Homo sapiens: one gene and its partners. The protein of the gene in region 5 interacts with the protein of the main gene of each other region in a biochemical or structural test. Each region holds a gene or a part of one and is shown on either strand. Other genes may lie near its edges. The genes, in order: FOXO1, MED12, RERE, AURKA, EHMT2, RPA1 and CUX1.

Region 1 (3,500 bases), on a different chromosome or scaffold from region 5:
AATTGTCTGCCAAATCTTGTTTTACTTAACATTTGAATTTAAGTACTTGACTTACTTGCTCATCTATCAATTCCACTTCAGCTGTTACAGAGTATTAGCCATTTAAAAAAAAAATCCTCCCCCCTTTTTTTGCATTCAAAGTACAGTGTGTACTTACACCATTCTTTAGTCCTTGGAAATGGATACAACCTACTTCAACTTGCTGGAGTGCCTTTCTTTAAAGATAAAGGAAGTGTTTTGGGATATTTTTAGTTTTGCGTCTCAAATGGCATTGTCAGAGTGTTAGTCTTAAACTAGGAATATGCTTACACTTTTTAAGATTTAGGTTTTTAAAAAATAGATTCTGATGTTAAATCATCTTTACAACCATTTTTATCAGGTTCTTGTTCTGATTTTTTTAAAAATGCAAGAATAATTTAGTTTTTTTTTAAATTTATTTGCCAGAGCTAGGAGACCTGTTAAGTTATCTGTCTGGAATTGGAGGCCCTTGGGCAGCTCCCAGTGGGAGCCTAATGGGGCTTTGCTTTGGAGTAGGCTGCCTTTCTCAAATGAGTAAGTGTTTCAGGTGTAATGTCAGTTGGTTTAAGTCTGATTGCAGCAAGTACATTTTCAGTTTGAGTAAAAGGGTATTTTAAGAAGAAAAGAAACAACCTGAGCTGTTCTAACTCATAACTAGTCTTTTGGTTAGTTTCATAAAAATGAGTTACTTGTTAAAACCAAGTTTCACTCTCAGATCTGAAAGACTCCTGTTCTAAGAGTCATAAAAGAGAAATTTTACTATGAATTTTAACTTAAATCCAGTTTTTAAATGCAAAGCAACCAAAACTTAACTGTTTTAGGACCGAGGAGAGGTTGCTTTGGCACAAAATATTTCCTGTGATTTACTACTGGGAATTAGGCTGAATCTTTAATTAAATAGTTTCTTGTGTGCTGCTTCCTGGGGCCTGCCTGAAAGTTTGAGTCATTTGCATAGGACAAACTAGTTGGAAAACTGTTAATGAATTCAAAAACTTTTAATGTCATTCTTTAGATAGTTAAGTGCTGGTTATATTTGAAGGATATGCATTTTGTGTTTGTGGGGATGGTATGTTAAATGTCTTACACTTGTTGTAATATTGGCTAGAATTGCTATAAGGTCACACACAAAGTGGAACCTAAGACTTTTGGAAAACCCGGGATCTTCTAAATCTAGTGCAGTATTTATAAATAATGAAACTTCATTTCCATGACCTGTTTTTTCACATAGAAAGCCTTCTAAAGCTTGGGAAGTGGTAGTTTGAACTCTGATTTTTTTTAATAAATGGCAGTTTTGAGTTGACTCTTTTGATATTATTAGGAACACTTTAGGTTAAAAGAATGACTTTGACTATACCACTTAACTCTTGTTAAATAAATTTTTAGATTGTTTTATTAGAGGTATCCTCTTTGATTTAAAGATAAATATCTTTTTTTTTTTTTTTTTTTTTTTTTTGAGTCAGAGTCTCACTCTGTTGCCCAGGCTGGAGTGCAGTGGCGCAATCTCGGCTTGCTGCAACCTCCGCCTCCCAGGTTCAAGCAATTCTTCTGCCTCAGCCTCCCGAGTAGCTGGGACTACTGGCACGTGCCACCATGCTTGGCTAATTTTTGTATTTTTAGTAGAGAGGGGGTTTCACATATTGGCTTGGCTGGCCTCGAACTCCTGACCTCGTGATCTGCCTGCCTTGATCTCCTAAAGTGCAGAGATTACATGCGTAAGCCACCGTGCCTGGCCCCAAAGCTTTTTATTTTTAAGATAAATCTTTAATTGGGAGTGATGTTTCTTATTTGGCCTATGAACTGACAGTGGATTTCCTTATGTTTTGAAATAAATATTCTGTAATTTGGGTATAATCTATAGGTGAGTAATTGAACCAGCCACAGAGATCCCGTTAGAAAGATGGCTGCTTTTTTGTTGCATGGTCACATTTGACTTAGAGAATCCTGGTGAGACCGAGTGGTTAGAGGATCTGAGACATCTTTCCTACTTCTGGATTGTCACTGAAATTACCTTAAAGAAAGCCTTGATAGGCTGGGCGTGGTGGCGCACACCTGTAATCCCAGCACTTTGGGAGGCTAAGGTGGGCGGATTGCCTGAGCTCAGGAGTTCAAGACCACCCTGGGCAACATGGTGAAACCTCATCTCTACTAAAATACAAAAAATTAGCCGGGTGTGGTGGCAGGTGCCTGTAGTCCCAGCTATCGTGCCAATAATCCCAACTACTCGGGAGGCTGAGGCAGGAGAATCGCTTGAACCTAGAAGGCGGAGGTTGCAGTGAGCCGAGATCACGTCACTGACCTCCAACCTGGGCAACAGAGGGAGACCCTGTCTCCAAAAAAAAAAAGAAGAAAGCCTTGATAATCCTGTATATGTACTTGGGGAAGCGATAATGAAGAAATAATTTAAAATGGATGAGGGGGTTATGCAGCTAAATGTAGCATCTTATTAAGGGCTGAAAGTTACCTGAATCTATTTGAGAGCTAAAACATTTTGTTCAGAAATTCCAAAATAGATGCCAAATTGGAATACTTCATTTCAGACTCCCAAGAGCTTTACTTTTTACGCATGGTTTTGTGGCATGTCCTTGGTTGAGGGGATGGCGAGAAGAGTGGCCTCTTTTTGAATGATTCTCATTTTTGTTGTTGTTGTTGTTGTTGTTGTTGTTGTTGTTGTTGTTTTTCTGAGCCAGGGTCTCACTCTGTTGCCCAGGCTGGAGTGTAGTGGCTTGATCTCAGCTCACTGCAACCTCTGCCTGCCCCTGGCTCAAGTGATCCTCCCACCTCAGCCTCCCGAATAGTTGGGATTATCGGCACGAGCCACTGCTCATGGACTAGTTTTTTTTAAGTGACAAACACTTGACTATTGAAAATAAGGCATTTTAATTCTCATGTAAACTTGAAAAAAGTTAAAGGTCTTCAAGATCCCAAAATTGCTGAAAAGGTATCACATTAGCAGCAGACACATAGATTTCATGCTCCGCACACACAAGGAATCTTCTCCGAGGCGATACGAAATGGGATGAGGGGGAAGAATATTCAGTGGCAAGTTAGAATGCCTTGCAGACTGTAAACATGTTGCCTGTCCTTGTGCTTCTAGCCCCTTCATCCAAGCATCTAAACTGCAGTTTTGTGTTAGGCTTTCTAAGATAGCAGCTGTATTTGGCTGGAATTTCTCTGGGGAAGCCTGAATGATTTGCATTTTTCTGGAACACTCTGCCCTTGGAAACTACCCAGTTCCCTGGCATCATGGGAATTTACCCAGCCATTTTTTTGGCCTATATGTGCTGTAGCTTTGGGGCTTTTTGGGGATCCTCTTGGAAAGGCAGTGTAAATACCACATAGTGATTGGGGAAGGCAGAATTTTCAATTGTGTGGGAGTTGGTCTGCTTCCCTGCAGTTCAAGATTTGCCTTTGCCTTTGTAGCAACAACTTGCAGAGACTTGCCCAGCCCCCCCAGGATCTCCCTGGGGTCATATAACCAAGCA
Region 2 (3,500 bases), on a different chromosome or scaffold from region 5:
CCCGCCGGCTTGCCTACTTCTGTACACGGAGACTGGCCCTGCAGCTGGATGGTGTGAGCAGTCACTCATCTCATGTTATATCTGCTCAGTCAACAAGCACGCTACCCACCACCCCTGCTCCTCAGCCCCCAACTAGCAGCACACCCTCGACTCCCTTTAGTGACCTGCTTATGTGCCCTCAGCACCGGCCCCTGGTTTTTGGCCTCAGCTGTATCCTACAGGTAGGTACTAGGCGGGCCCAAGGAAGCATTGAGAGATAGCCTGAGAAGAATCAGGTGCCCATCCCAGAGAATAGGGGTAATTCCAAATTGGATGTGGGAGTAGGTGCTGAGTACTTGCTTGGAGGTTGTTGTTTCTTGGTAATGGGGTGTTAGTCCCCTTTGGGGGTTTTCACCAGCCTCTCTCTCCCTTCCAAGGCTAAATAGTGGGCCCAAAGCCTTTTAGGAAAGTGAGTGAAGGGAGGGGATCGGGGTGGAGTGATGCCTGTCTTGGGGACCCAGTCAGAATAACTTTGGATCTGGAATCTACGGGTTGGGTCTTAGAATGGGATTCCAGAGGGGTAACCATGGTGAATGAGTTGGACTTAGCTGTTTCTATCTGGTAGACCATCCTCCTGTGCTGTCCTAGTGCCTTGGTTTGGCACTACTCACTGACTGATAGCAGAATTAAGACCGGCTCACCACTTGACCACTTGCCTATTGCCCCGTCCAACCTGCCCATGCCAGAGGGTAACAGTGCCTTCACTCAGCAGGTATGTCTGACCACTAGCCTGGTACTCTCAGATTGGGCTATGAGGCTAAATTACTCTTTCAGAAGTAGTGATTTGGAGTCTAGTACTATTCTTCTAGCCTGGGGCTCTGGCCTTTTATATGCCTTGGTACATCCTTGTAGCCTTCCTTTTTAACATTGCAGGTCCGTGCAAAGTTGCGGGAGATCGAGCAGCAGATCAAGGAGCGGGGACAGGCAGTTGAAGTTCGCTGGTCTTTCGATAAATGCCAGGAAGCTACTGCAGGTATGTGTCAGAGAACAGATAATAGGAAATATGTTTGAGGAAAGGATGGGGATAGTAAGGACATGTAGATCTAAGAGCCAGAATGCACCGGGCCTCTGGTTCAGTCCCCTTTACCACTTTTCCTCCTTAGGCTTCACCATTGGACGGGTACTTCATACTTTGGAAGTGCTGGACAGCCATAGTTTTGAACGCTCTGACTTCAGCAACTCTCTTGACTCCCTTTGTAACCGAATCTTTGGATTGGGACCTAGCAAGGATGGGCATGAGGTAAGCGAAAAGGGGAATAGAAGGAGCAAAAAACATTGCAAGAGCAATAATATGTCTGAGAGGGAAGTCATGGTGAGGCATTGAAAGCAGAGCATATCTGCAGAAATGATCTTACTGGGCCCAGGATGTTTTATGATAGAGCCCAGTCTTTAGGAAATTGGAACTCATTTCTTTGTCCCCACCCCTACCTTACTCCTCCTTCTCTTCCTTTGTTCTCCAGATCTCCTCAGATGATGATGCTGTGGTGTCATTGCTATGTGAATGGGCTGTCAGCTGCAAGCGTTCTGGTCGGCATCGTGCTATGGTGGTAGCCAAGCTCCTGGAGAAGAGACAGGCGGAGATTGAGGCTGAGGTTAGAGGGCAGAGATAAGAGAACAAGATTGGCCAATGGGAAGGAATTTACTGCGGTTGGAGACCGAGAGATGGAGGTGGTGGAGGGACCAGAGTTGAAGGTGTGAGAACAGAGTAAAGAAGCAAAAGAGAACCTAAAGGCAAAGTTACGGACGTGAGGCGAAAGTAGAGAAGAGTGGATTGTAGTAAGAGTTAGAGATAACATCAAGGCTTCAGTTGGGAGGTGGTAAAGAACATGGAGGTCAGCAGGGGAATGAAAGTGAAAAGCATGGGGTAGAGGTCAAGCAGGTGGTAGTTTAAGGCCTACACATTGAGGAGTGAAGAAGCAGGTAAAAGTCAGTTCTACAATTTGTTCTGTCATCTTGCAGCGTTGTGGAGAATCAGAAGCCGCAGATGAGAAGGGTTCCATCGCCTCTGGCTCCCTTTCTGCTCCCAGTGCTCCCATTTTCCAGGATGTCCTCCTGCAGTTTCTGGATACACAGGCTCCCATGCTGAGTACGGACCCCTACCACTCTCTAGTTACCTCTGCCTAGACTCAGTTACCCACCACTGTCATCAGAAAGCATAATTAACAGCCCTCTGGTCTATATTTCTCTCTTGGGCTCTATGCAGAATGACTTTTAGATGTAGTTCTAGTGATCCTCTTTAACTGGTCATCTTACAGTTAAACAGAGTAGAGAAATACAGAGAAGGATAAAAACAAGAGCTTGTGATTGAAGCATTTTCACTGCATAAATCGCAACAAAGATGTTACATTCCTTTCTGAGATGATGTGTGGGACAGCATGTGGGGTAACCAACCACACTTTGTCCCTCAACAATTTCTGGGATTTCTATTTGATCACTCTTATTATTGCCTTAGGTGTGTCCCTCTCTCTTTTGGCCCACCTTTTTGTGTTCTCCTAACTTATGTTTCCTCATTCCCTTCCTCCAGCGGACCCTCGAAGTGAGAGTGAGCGGGTGGAATTCTTTAACTTAGTACTGCTGTTCTGTGAACTGATTCGACATGATGTTTTCTCCCACAACATGTATACTTGCACTCTCATCTCCCGAGGGGACCTTGCCTTTGGAGCCCCTGGTCCCCGGCCTCCCTCTCCCTTTGATGATCCTGCCGATGACCCAGAGCACAAGGAGGCTGAAGGCAGCAGCAGCAGCAAGCTGGAAGTGAGTGGGCTTTTCCTTGCACTAGATCGTTTCTTCTGACATTTCCATCTTCATGGCTCCCAGGGGCCTCTAAGAGCCTCTTTTGCCTGGGGGAGGGGGGTAGTATTTTTCTTAGCACTTGGTGATTGACCAAGCACTCTCACATCAATTGTTTCATTGGTTCCTCCCATCAGCCTTGTGAGGTACTCTTATCCCCATTTTCAAACTGAAGAAAACAGAGGCCTATACTGGTTAAGTGATTGGATGAGGCTTGACTCCAGATCCTGTGCTTTCCCCAATCTGGTCTTCTCTCTCCACTTCCCCAATGAAGTTTTACAGATGGTGGGAGCCACTCCCTAGGGCTAAAGCAACTTCGCTTATGTTCTATGCCCTCAGGATCCAGGGCTCTCAGAATCTATGGACATTGACCCTAGTTCCAGTGTTCTCTTTGAGGACATGGAGAAGCCTGATTTCTCAGTAAGTTCAATCCTGAGCGTGGCAGAATCTGGATCCTTGGATCTTCCCATTATGCCTGCTTTTGGCATGTTTTTTTGCCCCCTCATCCACTTTCCTTCTTCTCATGTTCTGCTTTCTCACCTTTCTCTCAGTTGTTCTCCCCTACTATGCCCTGTGAGGGGAAGGGCAGTCCATCCCCTGAGAAGCCAGATGTCGAGAAGGAGGTGAAGCCCCCACCCAAGGAGAAGATTGAAGGGACCCTTGGGGTTCTT
Region 3 (3,500 bases), on a different chromosome or scaffold from region 5:
GCCCCCACACGAGCACGAGATGCTTCGCCACCCAGTTTTCGGTAAGACTTCCCCTCCAGGAGGGGCGGGGAGGCCGTGTGAGGGTTGGGTTGGGGTCTGGTCTGCTGTCTTCATTCATTACTCATTCATTCATTCATGCATTGAGCAGGTGGGTTCGCTCCCCCTGCATGCAGGGGGTCCGTGGGGGAACAAGCCTCCTGCCCTCTGGGGGCTGTCTGGGGTAGGGGTCATAAATGCATCAGCCTTGCTAAGAGCCGGTGAAAGTAGCAGAGGGGACTCACGGCAGGTCTCTGAAGGAGAAGCACTTGGGCTGAGGCCTTGGAGGAGGGGCCAGGCAGGTCCAGGCAGAGGCACCCAAGGGCACCTCCTGCCTCCCCAGAGGCTCTGCCCTCTGGCTGTCTGCAGAGTCTGGGAGGGGCTGGCTCCTGTGTCCGAACTGGCACCTCTCCTGTGCTCTTTGCCGTTTGCTGTGCCTGTGCCGCCCTGGTCTTGGCCAGTCCTCTGGCTATTTCTGTAGCGCAGGTTGTTTTGTGTTCGGCAGGCACCCCCTACCCCCGTGACCTGCCTGGGGCCATCCCACCCCCCATGTCAGCAGCCCACCAGCTGCAGGCCATGCATGCCCAGTCGGCCGAGCTGCAGAGACTGGCCATGGAGCAGCAGTGGCTGCATGGACACCCCCACATGCATGGTGGCCACCTACCAAGTCAGGAAGATTATTACAGGTGAGGTGGGGTGCTGGGAGGGAGTGGAGGGGTTATCTGAGCCCAGGCTCCCAACCTCCCCGTGTGCCCAGGGCCAGGCTCCTCCCCCTCTGCCTGCTGGGCCCTGGAGGGGACATTGTGGAACCATGGTGATGGGAGAAACAGAGGAAGGGAGGTGTTGGGAGGGTAGGTCAGCTACACAGGAGGCTGCGGGCTTGGGGTTGGATTGCCTGGCTGTTGTCTTTGGGGTTGCCTCCAGCCTGCGTGACTGCCTGCCTAGGCCTGAGACTAAATACGCTTTCCTGTTTTGTCTTTCCAGTCGACTGAAGAAAGAAGGTGACAAGCAGTTATAAGTTATTTATTTGTTAACGCTGGCTGTGGAAACCCCAGTTCTTGGGGGGAGAAACAGGACTTTTTACATAAAATAGGAGCTGCAAAAGCAAAAAGAATATCTTCTAAAGATTTCTTTATATATTTAAAAACCCACAACTAAAAATGTATCCACATAGTAGTGTTCGTTTGTCGAGAGGATTTCCTGAGACTGGTTTGGATCTCCCTGCATGACAGTCCCCCAGAAACTTAGTGAGTCCTGGACTGGACTGAACATCCAGAAAGCTTCCCTGCAATCTTGGGGTTTGGCTTTAGTTTTCTTTTCCTTGATTTCTCAGTAGGTGCTAGAATCCAGTTCACACCCTTCACTGTGCGTGCAGACACACTGACACACTCCGCCACGAGTGCTCCAGAGCCCACGAGGCTTGCAGATCGGGGGCATAGGAATTTGGAATCCAAGAGCTATAATTTTTAAAAAAAAAAATCTTTTATTTTAATACATTGTAGGAAATCTTCATAATTGGAGAAAGTTCTGCAGCATGGCTTTTTACGTCTGTAAATAAATAATTTTAGAACAGCCTTTTTTTCTTCCATAAACTACTATTGTGATCTATTTTTTCCAGCCATGTCACTAATTGTGAATTCCTACCAACTATTGACAGAATACAGAGTTGATTTTTTAATAAAAAGTTATATATAATTATCCCTTTAATTAAAGGGAGCAAAGGGGCGTTCCACATGGACAGAGGCTTGGACCGAGGCCTGGTCACAGCAGCGAGCATCCAGGGTTTGCAGGGACGATGTTACAGACTCTGTTTTCTGCCTGGCGTTTCACTTGTGTCTGCTCCTAGCCTGTGCTCTGCCAGCAGCACAGACATCTGCTCCATCAGACCTCTTCCATTTTGCACAGGGAGTGCAGGAGGTGAATGTTCACTTTCTGTTCTCCAGTGTCACTGTTCTGTTTCCACGGGATGGAAAGCGCATGGGCCTGTGTCCATTGTAGATTTCCTTCTAGATTTCTGTGTACACACACTTGATTGTTCTGGATGAATGTCTTTTTTAATACTCCGAAAATTTCATCATCTAAGAAAATGATTCCATACAAATAACTCAGCACACAAGTGACCCAGGACATATGCCTGCCAAAGGGATGTGTTAGAAGGCTGCCTTCTCATGCGCATTGTCACTTGGATCTTGTGGTGAGGACGGCCCCATCTTTCTTGCCACAGATTGAGGCCACTTTTGAGCAAGGGAGATCCTGGAGTTAAGACAGGTGTTGGGGGCAGCCTGTATTTTACCCTAGGGGCAGGTCTGCATGGTGACCCCACATTGCACTGGTAAACCATTTGAGTCCCACTCTTCATCCTGGAAGTGGGAACTGGAGTCCCACCCACAGTGCATTCAGAAAGCATGCTGTGTGGGGGCTGCTTCTCAGGAGGCCAGGCCCTTCTGAGCGGAACCGTCCTGGAGAGAGCCTGCCCTCGTTTCCAGGCTGCAGCCGTAACGCACTTTCTCCCAGGCTGAGGGCGGGTGTTCTGGGGTGTCTGCCCTCTGTCGGCCCTGCTTCCTGCCAGGACGTGGCCTCTTCCGATCCTTTTCTCTCAGACACTGGAGGTCTCTTCTGCCATTGTGCTGGTCCCATCCCAAGAATTGTAGGACAGAGACCACACTGGGTCGGCGGACACAAAGTCCATCCAGGACCCAGGCCGCAGAGGGAGCAGGAAGAGATGCTGATAGTTTGATCTAGAAACCAGCAGCTACTGGCTCAAATTCAGGTTCTGGCGTCAAATAGCGACATTTCCAGTTTCTCTTAAAAACCGTGTTTGGTTTCAGTTGGGATAGGCTTGTTTTGTCTGTTGAAAATGTTTCTAGTTTTTTTTCTTTCATTTTTCTCTCATTCCATTTCTGCCTTAACTTTAGTTTGTTCACAGGGAGGCAAAGCTGACATGAACCTTTTGTCGTGGGACTTCAGGCCACATTGGCTTGAAGGCATTCGTTTCCTTCTGGGGTGGGGACAGGCCCTCATGGCAGGCTTGTTCCCGTGGCTCTGAGCGAGGCCTCTTCCTGCTGGGCTCCCAGACTCCTGCATCCAGGCCCCCACCTTCTCGGCTTCTGGTTTTTCTTTCTTTTTGGTAGAACACAACATCTACCATTCAGTTAAACCTTCTTTATCTCCTCCTTTGGCATCCATTTTTCCAAAGAAGAGTCGAGTCCTCTGAGGTCTGTGCTTGAAAGCCGTCCGAAGGCATTCTTGTTAGCTTTGCTTTTCTCCCCATATCCCAAGGCGAAGCGCTGAGATTCTTCCATCTAAAAAACCCTCGACCCGAAACCCTCACCAGATAAACTACAGTTTGTTTAGGAGGCCCTGACCTTCATGGTGTCTTTGAAGCCCAACCACTCGGTTTCCTTCGGATTTTCCTCCCTTTGTTCGGGGTTTGGTTTGGCTCCTCTGTGTGTGTCCGTATCTTG
Region 4 (3,500 bases), on a different chromosome or scaffold from region 5:
ACCGAGGCAGGTGGATCACCTGAGGTCAGGAGTTGGAGACCAGTCTGACCAACATGGAGAAACCCTGTCTCTACTAAAAATACAAAATTAGCCAGGCGTGGTGGTGCACGCCTGTAATCCCAGCTACTCAGGAGGCTGAGGCAGGAGAATGGCTTGAACCCAGGAGGTGGAGGTTGTGGTGAGCCGAGATTGTGCCATTGCATTCTAGCCTGGGCAACAAGAGCAAAATTCTATCTCAAAAAAAAAAAAAAAATTTACTGTGGAAGTACTGAATAAATTGGAGTAGAACGCTGGATTTAGGAGTACCAGACAGGAAGGAGGTTGAGGTCAGAGATGGCAATAACCTGCTCTGTGTGGAGCAGAGTGGATGCAATTATTTACCAACTGTTGAGTGCTCATTCCCTGCAGGCTCTGAGATAAGTGCGTGCTTCATCCACGTCATCTCTTTCAATCTTCGTAACCACTTCATGAAGGTAGCCAGTTATTAACTCAGTTTTACAGAGGAGGAAGCTAAGACTCAGAAGCAGTTAACTTATCCAAAGACAAGCCAGGATGGAGAGGTGCACACAAATTTGAGAGCTCATTTACGATGCAGACTCATTAGAACTGGGCAATAAATTGTACCTGAAAGATGAATAAAGAGGAGTTAGGGATGGTGATTAGATTGATATTAATTGAGTGAGTGTCCTGGGGGTTGAGGGGTGCACATGTGACAGGGGCATCTGGAGGAAGAGTTTGGACCAGCATCCAGATATCTGAGCAGAGCATTGTGTGCTGTTCGAGTTTGCTATGTTGGAGACAGACCAGTGGAAATGTTTCATATGTCCTTGTGGCTGATGAAATAGTTACCCCAGTCCTCTGCTGCACAACTGTTCATTGTGCATTTTGCTGAATTGGTGGCTTTTATTTTTATATTTCCCCTTGGCAGCTAATATAAATGGAGGGTGGCTGGCTTATGTTTTGCTACATGTTGGTGATAATTCGTATGTAGGGTATGGACTGTTGGCTGGCCCACCTAGTAAGGGGAAAAAGGTGACGAGTTGGCAGCTCGTCATGCATGGGAAGATTGGTACTTCTGCCACAAAAGCTCTTCTTTGGAAACTGAGGCTTCAGAAGAGCCTGCATAGTCTGCCTTTAATTTATCAGAGAAGGGCCTGTCTATATATACGTCTGCTCATCTTTAGAAATTCTATAAAGGCTTCACATGATGGAAGTCAGGGTGTAGTAGTCCTTTTTTTCTATAAGGAAAACTTTAAAAAAAAAAAACAGATTTATCATTCTTGACATACCATTAATATTTTGGTGACCAATTCTTTGATTCACCTCTATTCACAGCTTAGCTTATCCTATATAGTTATTCTAAAAACAGGTTTTTAACTTATTCCATATAGAAAATAATCCTGAGGAGGAACTGGCATCAAAACAGAAAAATGAAGAATCAAAAAAGTAAGCTTTCTTATTTACAAAGTTCTGTACTGTTCTACTAGAATATATTATTTCGTTGCAAATTTCGTTGTGGGAACTCTGGGGAAAAAAATGAGGCCTTTATTTGCATTTAGAGGATATAAATGTTTCCAGATTTCCAATCTTAAAAAAAATGGAATTTTGTGTAATGAGGTATTTTACTAGGAACTCAAGTGCTTTAAAAAATGGCTTTCAAATTTAGAAAAAGCTTGTATGAATCTTTTATAGAAATGTGTGGAAGTTCCTCTCTGTCCTTAGAAATAACCACTACATATGGTTTATGCGTCTGTACTTTTTTATTGTACAAAAGTGCAAGTTTTTAAAAAATAGAATATGTTGCAGAACTATATACTCATATATGACTGAGGGTTTTGACAGTATTATAGTTTTAGTTCTTTATTGTAAAGGTTGGCTGTAATGTCTTCCCCAGGGCTTTTCTAAAAGCCTCCTCTCAGTCTCTGAACTATCTGGACTCTAGAATGTACCGGGAGGAGCGAGGAATGAACCCACAGACTCTTTTGCTTTTAGCGGTCTAACAGAGGCTAAGAGTCTAAATCCACTGGTTCTCATGCCCCAGCTAGCCTGTGGGCTCCATCCCGCTTCCATTAGTAACAGTGGCTCTGTCTCCACCACCAGAGTGGTTCTCCACCCAGAGAGAATTAGCACCTCTGGGACTGGAGGGAGCAGCTGGGGTTAGTTTGAAACATGCCCCCAGATGGTCTGGAAGCATTCCTCCCTCTCTGGTCACTTATCCTTTTTGTGGTCTTCAGCGTTGTCATGGCCCTGTTCCTCTGAGCATAGTACGGGCTTGGGACATTTCCCATAGAGTGCTTCAGGTCTAAAACCCGAGACTGCTCCTTGTCACTGACTCTCACACCTGACGGCAGCTAGGGACGTCAGGGTTTCATGTCGTGGCAGCTCTTTGATAGTGGTTATTGCCTTGGTTCTTGCTGAGGATGCATATTGAGTGAAGTTGGAATACGAAATTATTTGTAGAATGTGTCTGCTACTCATTGAAAATTTGTTAGAAAAGCTTTGTTTTCTTCACATTCTAAAGTGTTCAAATTCCTCCTAGGAGGCAGTGGGCTTTGGAAGACTTTGAAATTGGTCGCCCTCTGGGTAAAGGAAAGTTTGGTAATGTTTATTTGGCAAGAGAAAAGCAAAGCAAGTTTATTCTGGCTCTTAAAGTGTTATTTAAAGCTCAGCTGGAGAAAGCCGGAGTGGAGCATCAGCTCAGAAGAGAAGTAGAAATACAGTCCCACCTTCGGTGAGTTTTCAGGTTCATGTTCAAAAGAATGTTCACCAATGCTGCACCCCTCCCCCTCCTGTAATGTCAGCCTCCCACTGCCCAGGTCCCTTCACTCCCTCTTACGAGGCACTGCCTTCAAATGCATGGCCCCGTTCCTCACCTCCCCCTCCCCTATGAAAAAGATTAGATAAGCTTCTGTACTGCACTGGGTTATAAGCATTCTCCTGTGATTCTCCCATGCTCTGCATGTTAAAATAAAATTGTATTCCTTTTTTTTTTTTTAAGTATAAATTTATTTTTTAGAGGGCCTGCTTTTCATAGTACCACAAAAAATGATTAAATTTGTCATCTTTCAAAGAGCACTTAAGTGCTCTGATCCTGGAAAAATCACTTGAGGATTTAATGTTTTGTTAATAGAATAGTTTATATGGGCAAGTCTTTCTGGTGGACAGTGAAGGGGAATGGCACCCCTTATTCTGAGGTATGCAGGAATTGCGAGCAGCTACCTGCAGGTTGACTACGGCTGGTGGGTTTTTGTTTTTCCTTTTTTTCTTTCAGTGTTTTTCAAATTTGAATCAGATGCTAATACTTCAAGTCTGGCCACATCAGGCCTGGTGTGTCTCTGCCTGGCAACACCTGGCTGGGGCTGGGAGGGGCAGGCATCTCACATGGGCTGTGCTTCCCATTGCCTGCTTCCCGCTGGCCACAGTCTGCACCTGCCCAGTCTGCTCAGCACCCATCTACTGCCATTACTGATCACTGCTTTTATCTGTCACAGTGTCTGGGT
Region 5 (3,500 bases):
CCAAGGCGGGCAGATCACGTGAGGTTGGGAGTTCGAGACCAGCCTGATCAACATGGAGAAACCCCGTCTCTACTGAAAAAAATACAAAATTAGCTGGACGTAGTGGTACGTGCCTGTAATTCCAGCTACTCGGGAGGCTGAGGCAGGAGAATCGCTTGAACCTGGGAGGTGGAGGTTGCAGTGAGCCAAGATCGTACCATTGCACTCCAGCCTCGGCAACAAGAGCGAAACTCCGTCTCAAAAAAAAAAAAATTTTTTTTTGTCTTAGGTCTCTCTCAGTATTTAGGTTTCCCCATCTTCTTTGTGTTTGTTTGTTTGTTTGTTTTTGTTTTTTGAGATGGAGTCTCACACTGTCACCCAGGCTGGAGTGCAGTGGCGTGATCTTGGCTCACTGCAAGCTCCACCTCCTGAGTTCAAGCAATTCTCCTGCCTCAGTCTCCCAAGTAGCTGGGATTACAGGCACCCACCACCATGCCCAGCTAATTTTTTGTATTTTTAGTAGAGGCAGGGTTTCACTATGTTGGCCAGGCTGGTCTCAAACTCCTGATCTCGTGATCTGCCCACCTCGGCCTCCCAAAGCGCTGGGATTACAGGCGTGAGCCACCACACCTGGCCTGATTTCCTCATCTTCTAAAAAAAAATTTTTTGGCCCAGGCGTGGTGGCTCACGCCTGTAATCCCAGCACTTTGGGAGGCAGGTGGATCACCTGAGGTCAGGAGTTTGAGACCAGCCTAGCCAACATGGTGAAAACACATCTCTAATAAAAATACGAAAATTAGCTGGGTGTGGTGGCGGGTGCCTATAATCCCAGCTACTCAGGAGGCTGAGGCAAGAGAATTGCTTGAATCCAGGAGGTGGAGGTTGCAGTGAGCTGAGATCACACCATTGCAATGCAGCCTGGGCAACAAGAGCAAAACTCAATAAATAAATAAGAAAGATTTTTTTTTTTTGCCATTTATTTGTCAAAGAAACCAGCTCAGTTGTCCTACAGAATTTTTCACATTTAGGAGTTGGCTGATTGGGTGGAGATTGACACATCCTCTCTGCCCATATTTCTTGTAAACTGATAGATCTAGAGGCGGAATCAGCTTCAGGTGCCAAGAAGACTTGACAGTGGGTGCAAGTGCTTCTGGCCACATCACATCAGGATGCATGGAACATCTAATCTGGTCATTTTTCTTGTTAGTGATAAGATTGACCAGTGGGTTCAGGTGATGTCAGCCTGAACCTTTCATATAAAGTTTCTCATGAGCTTTGTGTCTAGTGTTTTTAGCAACCATTGGTGGTCTTGCCTGTTTATGAACATCATAAAAGGGGTATCAAAGTATGTTTATCTTCTGGTACTTGCTTTTTGTTTTTTAACTTAATATCACATTACCAAGATCTGTGCACATTGCTGTCTGTAACTTTTTCACTGCTGTGTAATATTCCATGCACCCTCTCTTTATGTGGCCCTTTGTCTCCTCTGCTACCCACACTTATCCCCAGCAGCCATCCGTGGGTAGTGGCGGGGGGCAATGGTGGTGGTGGTTTTCTTTACTCACCTCATTGTCTGAGTCCTGGGGGTTGGATATGTCTGTTCTGCCTCTCTCCCAGTCTGAAGTTGAAGCTCTAACTGAACAACTAAGTGAAGAGGAGGAGGAGGAAGAGGAGGAAGAAGAAGAAGAGGAAGAGGAGGAGGAAGAGGAAGAAGAAGAGGAAGATGAGGAGTCAGGGAATCAGTCAGATAGGGTAAGAGACGGAGGCTGATATCTCCAGAGGAGTGGGAGACTATGGGGCTGGAGGTCTGGTCCTGAAGGTGTTGGGGGGGCCCCTGGGGGTGAGGGTTCCTAACTCCTCCTCCTCCCCCTTCCCAGAGTGGTTCCAGTGGCCGGCGCAAGGCCAAGAAGAAATGGCGAAAAGACAGCCCATGGGTGAAGCCGTCTCGGAAACGGCGCAAGCGGGAGCCTCCGCGGGCCAAGGAGCCACGAGGTGAGGAGGCTCTGCTGCTTTTGGGTGCCCTCCAGCCCCCGCCCGGCCCCCCAGAGTGTGTGCACGCACACACACGCTCTCGCATGTCCACCTGCATGTACCCACGCGTCCAGGCACCTGTGAGCTCGCACTCTCACTCTCTCTGTCTCTGTGTCAGGAGTGAATGGTGTGGGCTCCTCAGGCCCCAGTGAGTACATGGAGGTCCCTCTGGGGTCCCTGGAGCTGCCCAGCGAGGGGACCCTCTCCCCCAACCACGCTGGTAATTGCCAATTGCCGGGACAGGGAGCCACTAGGGGGCGACCTCAGGGCAGGAGGGAAAGGGAAGGAGGGGAACCACGCCAGAGCCGGGGTGTCCATGGCCAGGCTTTAGGGGTTCTGGGGCATGGCGGGGTGGGGTAGGGAGGGAGTGAGAGGACCCGCCAGGGGTCCCAGTAGGTGAGGTGCAGAGCCTCCCTCAGCTCCTCTTTTCCTCCATCCAAGGGGTGTCCAATGACACATCTTCGCTGGAGACAGAGCGAGGGTTTGAGGAGTTGCCCCTGTGCAGCTGCCGCATGGAGGCACCCAAGATTGACCGCATCAGCGAGAGGGCGGGGCACAAGTGCATGGCCACTGAGAGTGTGGACGGAGAGGTGGGGCCGTGGGCTGGTGGGAGAGGTGCCAGGGCGTCCAGTCCCCGGCCCCAGCCTCACGCTCTCTTCTCACCCATCCTCACTGCGCACAGCTGTCAGGCTGCAATGCCGCCATCCTCAAGCGGGAGACCATGAGGCCATCCAGCCGTGTGGCCCTGATGGTGCTCTGTGAGACCCACCGCGCCCGCATGGTCAAACACCACTGCTGCCCGGGCTGCGGCTACTTCTGCACGGCGGTGAGTGACCAGTGGGGCAGACAGGTAGCATGCCCTGTGGCAGAGGGGGCCCCAGTAACCTGACCATGTCGTTTCCCTGCTCCCAGGGCACCTTCCTGGAGTGCCACCCTGACTTCCGTGTGGCCCACCGCTTCCACAAGGCCTGTGTGTCTCAGCTGAATGGGATGGTCTTCTGTCCCCACTGTGGGGAGGATGCTTCTGAAGCTCAAGAGGTGACCATCCCCCGGGGTGACGGGGTGACCCCACCGGCCGGCACTGCAGCTCCTGCACCCCCACCCCTGTCCCAGGATGTCCCCGGGAGAGCAGACACTTCTCAGCCCAGGTACTGGCCTCCCCCTTCTGTACTGTCTGTTCCCTCCCCCACCCCTATTGCTCCTGGACATGAGCTCCTTCTTCCACAGTGCCCGGATGCGAGGGCATGGGGAACCCCGGCGCCCGCCCTGCGATCCCCTGGCTGACACCATTGACAGCTCAGGGCCCTCCCTGACCCTGCCCAATGGGGGCTGCCTTTCAGCCGTGGGGCTGCCACTGGGGCCAGGCCGGGAGGCCCTGGAAAAGGCCCTGGTCATCCAGGAGTCAGAGAGGTGAGTGGGGAGTTGCTCAGGCACAGCAACTGGGGCTGAGGCCAGAGGAGTGGTGTCGAGGCTGATGCTGGAATCTGAGG
Region 6 (3,500 bases), on a different chromosome or scaffold from region 5:
TTCCCTGTTCTTTCCCAGCGCAGGGCAGCTGCTTAGGTTTGGATTAAGGAGGCGGAAGGGTCTTAGTGGTCACCCACTTAACATATCTTGACCAAAAACTGATTCCTGCCCTTTGCACCCGACGAAACTCATTCTTACAGACTTCATTCTAGACTTGCTAGTCCTTCAGACGCATTGAGATCTGGGAGTTGTCTGGGGATTTGGAGGCGATCTATTTGTGATAGGTCCCTTACATCCTGTCTTTCTTCATGTGACTAGTGCCTTGCCATCAGTTTTACCAGTTACAAAAGTTGATTTTCTTTTTCTCACCCATTATCTTGCCCGTTGAGGCAAGAGAAGTGTTTAAGAGGGCGGCCTTCAGAAACAGCAGTGTCTGGATTCGTCACCATTATTACTTTGACCTCGGGGCTGACATCAGCAAACATAGCAGTGAGCTGCTGTGTGCGCAGCCTTCATCCTAGATTGCTTTTGTAGCCTCCAGCCTCAGTCTCTATTTGATCTGCGTATCTCTTGCATATAAAAAGGAAAAGCTTTGCCTCTCATGTTATATGATTTCACTAGTGGCACCTCCAAAATTTAGAGTTATTGTAAAGCTTACTATAAAAAAGCTAAGTAGAATAGTAATAACTCCTTTTCGTTTGCGTTTGTTTTTAAAGGTTCTACTGTTTCTAAGGCTTATGGTGCTTCAAAGACATTTGGAAAAGCTGCAGGTCCCAGCCTGTCACACACTTCTGGGGGAACACAGTCCAAAGTGGTGCCCATTGCCAGCCTCACTCCTTACCAGTCCAAGTGAGTTGTTGCATAGAGTAAGTTCAGAGTGTACTTATGAAATCGGAGAAGCTATTATGGACTCTTGAGTTATTTATGCGTGAACTTCAGGGTCACCACCAAATACCACCAAATAGAATGGGTTTACTCTTTTTTTTTTTTTTTTTTGCTGAGGAGGAAAGGGGTACAAATTGTGGCAAACTTTTAACTCTTGTTGGAAAATATAGTAACAATAGCAATCTGCCATAGCCTGTGGGGTTTCATTCATTTTGAAAGAATTTGAAATTAAAAATACTTAATGCTTAATCAGTTGATAGTCTTATGAGTAAAAATAAATATTTCTGATAATTCAAAAGGCATTTAATCTTCTCCTATAAACAGGTGACTTCGTCTTTGGTTTAGTTGGCTAAAATAATCTGCACTATTTGTATTAAACACATGAACATACCCTGAACATAAATTTCTTTTATATGACTTTTTTCCACCAAAAATTAATTTGAAGCCGGGCGCGGTGGCTCATGCCCGTAATCCCCGCACTTTAGGAGGCTGAGGCGGGTGGATCACCTGAGGTCGGGAGTTTGAGACCAGCCTGGCCAACATGGTGAAACCGTGTCTCTACTAAAAATACAAAAATTAGCCAGGTGTTGTGGAGCACGCCTGTAATCCCCGCTACTCAGGAGGCTGAGGCAGAAGAATCGCTTGAACCCAGGAGGCGGAGGTTGCAGTGAGCCAAGATTGTGCCACTGCCTTCCAGCCTGAGTAACAGAGTGAGATTCCGTCTCTCAAGATAAATAAACAAAATAAAGTAATTTGAATAGTTAAAAATTAGAGTTCTTTTTTCAGAATCCTTCCAGATATGTTTATATTTATTCTTCAATACTCTGTAACGTAGGAAAGATATTTTTCCCTGTGAAATTATAAGTGGGGTACCTAATGTGCCCTGTGCCTCCTTTTTCCATGCTTCTCTCTAAGGTCATGCTGCTTCAGTGTGTTCTTCCTGATGGTCCACCAACATCGTGTATTCTATTCAGGGTGTGTTACGAATGAGACAGAAGTGTAACACCAGTTATATCAGTTCCCATAATTGAAAACTGTGGCAAAATATAATTGCTGGTGTTACTGTATTTTCCAGCTTAGAACCTTTCATTAAGGGGATATGGTTGCCTTGGTGATGCTTTTTGGAGAAGGGAGAGAGTTTATAAATTTACTTATTTGACAGGAGAATGAGTTAGTATTAAATCACTTTGCATGTTTTACTATTTGCTTATTCTGTAAACTGTCAAACCCATGTGTCATCTTGGGGTTTTAATTAGCTGGATTAAAATACAGGTTGGAAAACGGAATATGCGTAAGACGAGAAAGGCTGTAGGAAGATGATTTCTTACTTGATCTTTTCCAAGGAAGACCCCATACACTAATATGATCGATTTGGTTTGTAGGTGGACCATTTGTGCTCGTGTTACCAACAAAAGTCAGATCCGTACCTGGAGCAACTCCCGAGGGGAAGGGAAGCTTTTCTCCCTAGAACTGGTTGACGAAAGTGTGAGTGTTTGTCATGCTGGGGAGTGAGGGCAGTGGGCTCGCCGGGAAACAGAAGGCTCAGCTCTGCGGAGGGCAGTGGGCTCGCTGGGAAACAGAAGGCTCAGCTCTGCGGAGGGCAGTGGGCTCGCCGAGAAACAGAAGGCTCAGCTCTGCGGGCCTATGAGGTGAAGAATAATAGTAGGCCAGAGAGAAGCATGATTGTTATTGTGCTTTTCCCTCTGTCATAGTCTTTTGATGCTGTCTGGAGTAGAGGGTTAAGGTCATAAATAAAATCTTTGATCTTAAATGACAGCGTTTGTAGCAGTAGAAAGTAGTTTTCTAAATATATAAGTAGCCTCCTGGGCAGGAGAAGCTGGAAACAGTCTGATTTGCTGGCAGGTGTACTGGAAGCACTGGGAGGTGATGCCTGCTTGTGAGCGCCGTGGAGCTTTGGGACACAGCAGAAGGCACACAGTTGTGACCTCGATATGGGAGTGGTTTTGTGGGAAATGGGTTCTGACTGTGCAGATTCTCTATTTGCTTTATTTAAACTAAACAAAACCATGACGATGAGACAAAATTCCTATGCCATGGAAGTACGACAGTCTTGATAGCTGTTAATCAGTCCATTCGTTTTGCTAATAATTCCTGAAATTGCCGGGTGTGGTGGCTCACGCCTGTAATCCCAACACTTTGGGAGGCCAGGGTGCACAGATCACTTGAGGTCAGGAGTTCGAGACCAGCCTGGCCAACATAGTGAAACCCCGTTTATACTAAAAATACAAAAATTAGCTGGGTATGGTGGCAGGTGCCTGTAGTCCCAGCTACTTGGGAGGCTGAGGCAGGAGAATCAATCGCCTGAACCAAGGAGGTGGAGGTTGGAGCCAGCCAAGATTGCACCACTGCACTCCAGCCTGGGCGACAGAGTGAGACTCCATCTCAAAAATAATAATAATTCCTAAAATGTACTTCAGCATTCTTTTCAAAGTGCTGCAGATTTCCTGTTTGTTCAGACTCCCAAATAGGGAGAAAAAAATAGATGTTTTTTTTGGAAGTTGATATAACACCCAAAATGTTTGTGTGATGGCAGAATCAATATTAGAACCTAATTTTTTTTTAGAAATTATTGCTCTAATGTATGGTGGTTGGCTAAAATTTCTTGTCCACTTGTAAATTTTGGCTGACAGAAAAGCAAAAGTGAAAATCAGATC
Region 7 (3,500 bases), on a different chromosome or scaffold from region 5:
ACCCTACCTTTCCCACTGCTCAAGCTCAAAGCTCCCCATTTTCTTGCTCAGAGGCTGCCTGGATGTCTTCCGGTTAGATAAGAAGTCCCCCGACATGACCCCACCAGGAGAGGGACGTGTGCCCGTGCTTTATCCCTTCCTATCAGACGGTAAGCCCCCTGAGTGGGGAATCTGTCTCCGACTTAGACCCCAGCCCTGAACACAAGGCTCTGGGCCGACAAAGGATGACAGTGGGCGTGCAAATCTTGGCAGAGTCCCTCCATGCACTGTCAGCTCGCTCTCCATTAGAAACTGACACAGAGAGGGACCCCGTTTGCAGATAGGATGCCATATTTCAGCTCCCCAAATCCAGAATGTGCGGTCCCTCGGAGTCTCGCCGGGACAGACCACAGCACGGGACAACAGAAAAGGCAGTGAGACATTTCATGCAAAAGCAACAGAAACTGGCTGCTTACCTGAGCTCACACAGCCCTGCTGCAGCGGGTCCTGGAGCGATGTCACGGAGTGGAGGACTAAAGTAGAAAAAGGTTATAATTAAAGGAAGGAACGCGGCCCAGGGCTTAAAGCTTCCTAACTGAATGTGGCAAGGCCCGGGGAGGCTTCCCATTCCTCCTGGGGAGGGGCGGGCATGGGGACCCACGGGCCGGGGAGGCGCTGCTGTTGCAAGGCCAGGCCCCCGGGCCGGGAGCAGGTGAAAGGTTTCGCCTGTGACATCTTCCACTTTTGTACCTTTGGCTGACTTTCTTTCCTGACTCCCTGATTCAGCTACTTGACTTTTACCTGTATTTATGTATAAACAGCATTTTTTAAATTGGTAACTCATTTTCTGCTGCTTATAAAATTAGACAGGCATGATCTCTCCTAAACACTGAAGTCAGTCCCACGGCAACAGGTTGTGGAGGAAGGGGACGGTTCTGTCCCCCAGCACCAGCCCACGGTGGGGAGTGTGGTTGGCCACCTCCTGGGGCGGAGTTCCCTCCTCCCTCTCTGCATAGCCCAGGTGGGGCTGCTGTGACCAGGTCCTTGCTATGGGGGGGCAGCCCCTCTCCTGTGGCAGGACCCCCATTACCTGGCCCTTGCTGCTGGCCCTGGACGGGTAGAACACCCTGGCCTAGCTCGCCGTTCAGCCAGAGCTGCATCCGGATGAAGGGTTCTCGGCCTTTCTGCGTCAGCTTGCTCCATGGCTTCGGTCGGGACAGCATGTCGCTGACGCTGCCCTGGGACAGGCCCAGCACCTGGAGTGGCACCGAACACACAGGCCATCAGTGCCTGGCTATTAGCATGACACCACAGATGCTGCTGCAATGCACACCCACCACGCAGAGGGCGCGTCTAGGGCTGACTTCTGAGCACAGAACCACGGCCTGGTGGCGGTGACAGCTTGTGGGCAGGGAATATGCATTTAAAGATCAACGGTGGCTGAGACCCCGGCACAGGGGGACTTTCGGGTGAGCCATGGTTACAGCCACAGCTCTCAGCTCCCAGGGAGGGAAGAGGGTCTCATCCCAGGGTCTTGATCCTGCCAAGATGGCAGGGCTGTCACCCTGACACCCCGCGGAGGAGGTGTGTACAAGCACCTTGCTCTTCACTTGGTGGCACCGGGAAAGGCTAAGGTTCCAGGGACAAGATCCCTCCAGAGGTGGGGCAGTGGGTGCCGGTGGGACTGGCGAAGCTGGTGTCCTCTGCAAACGCTGAGCCAGGCCAGCATTTAGAAAGGTCTGCTTGTTCTGACCACATCCTGATCAAAGGTGGGGGCCCAGAGGTGAGCTGGTGGGACCTGGGGAGCCGGCCTGGGAGTGACATTCCGCCGCAGATGATTGCCGAGTTGCGTGTACACACCCGAGTTTTCTGACGCTCCCATATGGCCATACATATGTATAGGCACAAACACCCCCCACAGGACACAGATGCCGCCCTGGGATATTTAGGGGCTGCATCCGATCACTCTTTTGAAAAGTTCTCAAGTTCCAGAATAAAACTGCACTCACGGGCCAAACAAGTTCAATGTTATTAAGTCTCTGCTAAATTTAAGGCATGAGCACGAATGTCTATTTCAATGTTCTCAAATGGTATTTTTACAACACTGAACTAGAAATCTCAAGGGACTTGAAATACTCATCCTCATTTCTAGTCGCCCCCCTTCACCTTTTGCAAAATCAGGGCAAAGTTCGCCATCGGACACCACCGGGATTCACAGCACAGCATACGGCAAACACTGAGTGGAAGGCGGGGTGGGGAGTGCGGGGACGGCGCCATGCAGGGACCCTGGCTTGGCAGGGGAGGGGGTGGGATTTGTCCCCTGCTGATCCAGCCACGTGCTCCCTCAGGAAGGTGCCTTTTAGGGGAGAGGGGTGCTTCTCCTTCTATTCAGCACTCCGTTATTTAATCTAAAATGGTAGGGGGTTGGGAGGCCAAGGCAGGCAGATCACTTGAGGTCAGGAGACCAGCCTGGCCAACATGGTGAAACCCTGACTCGACTAAAAATAGAAAAATTAGCTGGGTGTGGTGGTGGGCACTCGTAATCCCAGCTACTCAGGAGGCTGAAGCAGGAGAATCGCTTGAACCCAGGAGGCAGAGGTTGCAGTGAGCCGAGATAGCGTCACTGCACTCTAGCATGGGCGACAGAGTGAGACGCCATCTCAAAAAATAAATAAATAAAATGATACTAGGACATGATGTTTATTTTAGATTTGGCAGGCACGGTTAACCCTCATTCTCCTGAATCTCAGTGACCAGGAAAGTGCCAAGAACAGAAAGGCCTAGAAGCTCGTCCATGCACGATTACACTTTCCTGAGCCAGGGAAGGATGATAGGGAAACACGGGCCACCCTGCTTGGGCCATCCCCAAGCTGTGTGTCCCCGGGCAGGTTGCTTGACCTCTCTGACTGAACAATATCCAAGAGTTACACAGAAAGGAACAATAATGCTCTCTGCAGCTTTTTCTAGTAAGTCCCTTTTGGCTCTCTGCGTACTGGTGGTCCCTCTGTGTGATCAGATGGGATTTTTTTTGGCCAAGGAAGCCTGCAGGGGTGCCTCTCAGCTCCCCTTGGCAGCAAAAGCTGGATGTGGACTCGGCTGCCGGTCAGCTTGGGGCAAGTAGTTAACGTCCCCAAGCCTTGGTGTCCTTCCCTGTCAATTGGGGATTTTACCATCCACTTCCCAGCGCCAAGTGAGGGGTCGAAAGGGCAGCATGCAGGTGAAAGGCTGAGCCTAGAACCTGGCTGCAGTCGGGGCTCGGCAAATGGGATCGGGGCTGCAATGTTCACCAGCCGCACCTTGGAAGTCTGGGAGCAGAGGATGCCTTACGCTCTGCTCTTGGGTGAATTGAAATGGGTGAGGGTCACAGGCTGCGGGATAGATACTTGGTCCTCAGCAAGGAGAAGAGATGGGAGAACCAAAGCCCCCAGAGCAGATCCCTTACCTTCTCCCCGAAGATTCTCTGGCAGATGCCGTTCTTGGCCAGCTTTTCCTTAACCTGCCGGGTGAGCTCGATGGTGTCC

Evidence for each region.
Region 1: of the proteins of EHMT2 (region 5) and FOXO1, one has a biochemical effect on the other in vitro, tested with the Homo sapiens proteins (one study listed by BioGRID).
Region 2: the proteins of EHMT2 (region 5) and MED12 form a complex in vitro, tested with the Homo sapiens proteins (one study listed by BioGRID).
Region 3: the proteins of EHMT2 (region 5) and RERE form a complex in vitro, tested with the Homo sapiens proteins (one study listed by BioGRID).
Region 4: of the proteins of EHMT2 (region 5) and AURKA, one has a biochemical effect on the other in vitro, tested with the Homo sapiens proteins (one study listed by BioGRID).
Region 6: the proteins of EHMT2 (region 5) and RPA1 form a complex in vitro, tested with the Homo sapiens proteins (one study listed by BioGRID).
Region 7: the proteins of EHMT2 (region 5) and CUX1 form a complex in vitro, tested with the Homo sapiens proteins (one study listed by BioGRID).

What each region holds. Positions count from the first base shown.
Region 1 is NC_000013.11:40,660,142-40,663,641, reverse strand, and holds part of FOXO1 (forkhead box protein O1), read left to right. Parts: intron 1-3,500. UniProt on the Homo sapiens protein: Transcription factor that is the main target of insulin signaling and regulates metabolic homeostasis in response to oxidative stress.
Region 2 is NC_000023.11:71,121,596-71,125,095, forward strand, and holds part of MED12 (mediator of RNA polymerase II transcription subunit 12), read left to right. Parts: coding exon 1-221; intron 222-604; coding exon 605-751; intron 752-912; coding exon 913-1,012; intron 1,013-1,142; coding exon 1,143-1,279; intron 1,280-1,499; coding exon 1,500-1,631; intron 1,632-1,998; coding exon 1,999-2,125; intron 2,126-2,563; coding exon 2,564-2,793; intron 2,794-3,168; coding exon 3,169-3,249; intron 3,250-3,380; coding exon 3,381-3,500. UniProt on the Homo sapiens protein: Component of the Mediator complex, a coactivator involved in the regulated transcription of nearly all RNA polymerase II-dependent genes.
Region 3 is NC_000001.11:8,352,641-8,356,140, reverse strand, and holds part of RERE (arginine-glutamic acid dipeptide repeats protein), read left to right. Parts: coding exon 1-41; intron 42-541; coding exon 542-722; intron 723-1,020; coding exon 1,021-1,054; 3' UTR 1,055-3,500. UniProt on the Homo sapiens protein: Plays a role as a transcriptional repressor during development. May play a role in the control of cell survival. Overexpression of RERE recruits BAX to the nucleus particularly to POD and triggers caspase-3 activation, leading to cell death.
Region 4 is NC_000020.11:56,382,216-56,385,715, reverse strand, and holds part of AURKA (aurora kinase A), read left to right. Parts: intron 1-1,391; coding exon 1,392-1,446; intron 1,447-2,539; coding exon 2,540-2,731; intron 2,732-3,500. UniProt on the Homo sapiens protein: Mitotic serine/threonine kinase that contributes to the regulation of cell cycle progression.
Region 5 is NC_000006.12:31,887,699-31,891,198, reverse strand, and holds part of EHMT2 (histone-lysine N-methyltransferase EHMT2), read left to right. Parts: intron 1-1,596; coding exon 1,597-1,731; intron 1,732-1,856; coding exon 1,857-1,971; intron 1,972-2,128; coding exon 2,129-2,230; intron 2,231-2,451; coding exon 2,452-2,600; intron 2,601-2,692; coding exon 2,693-2,836; intron 2,837-2,922; coding exon 2,923-3,158; intron 3,159-3,237; coding exon 3,238-3,420; intron 3,421-3,500. UniProt on the Homo sapiens protein: Histone methyltransferase that specifically mono- and dimethylates 'Lys-9' of histone H3 (H3K9me1 and H3K9me2, respectively) in euchromatin.
Region 6 is NC_000017.11:1,875,005-1,878,504, forward strand, and holds part of RPA1 (replication protein A 70 kDa DNA-binding subunit), read left to right. Parts: intron 1-656; coding exon 657-789; intron 790-2,207; coding exon 2,208-2,310; intron 2,311-3,500. UniProt on the Homo sapiens protein: As part of the heterotrimeric replication protein A complex (RPA/RP-A), binds and stabilizes single-stranded DNA intermediates that form during DNA replication or upon DNA stress.
Region 7 is NC_000007.14:102,202,126-102,205,625, reverse strand, and holds part of CUX1 (Homeobox protein cut-like 1), read right to left. Parts: coding exon 3,422-3,500; intron 1,236-3,421; coding exon 1,070-1,235; intron 513-1,069; coding exon 456-512; intron 1-455. UniProt on the Homo sapiens protein: May be involved in intra-Golgi retrograde transport.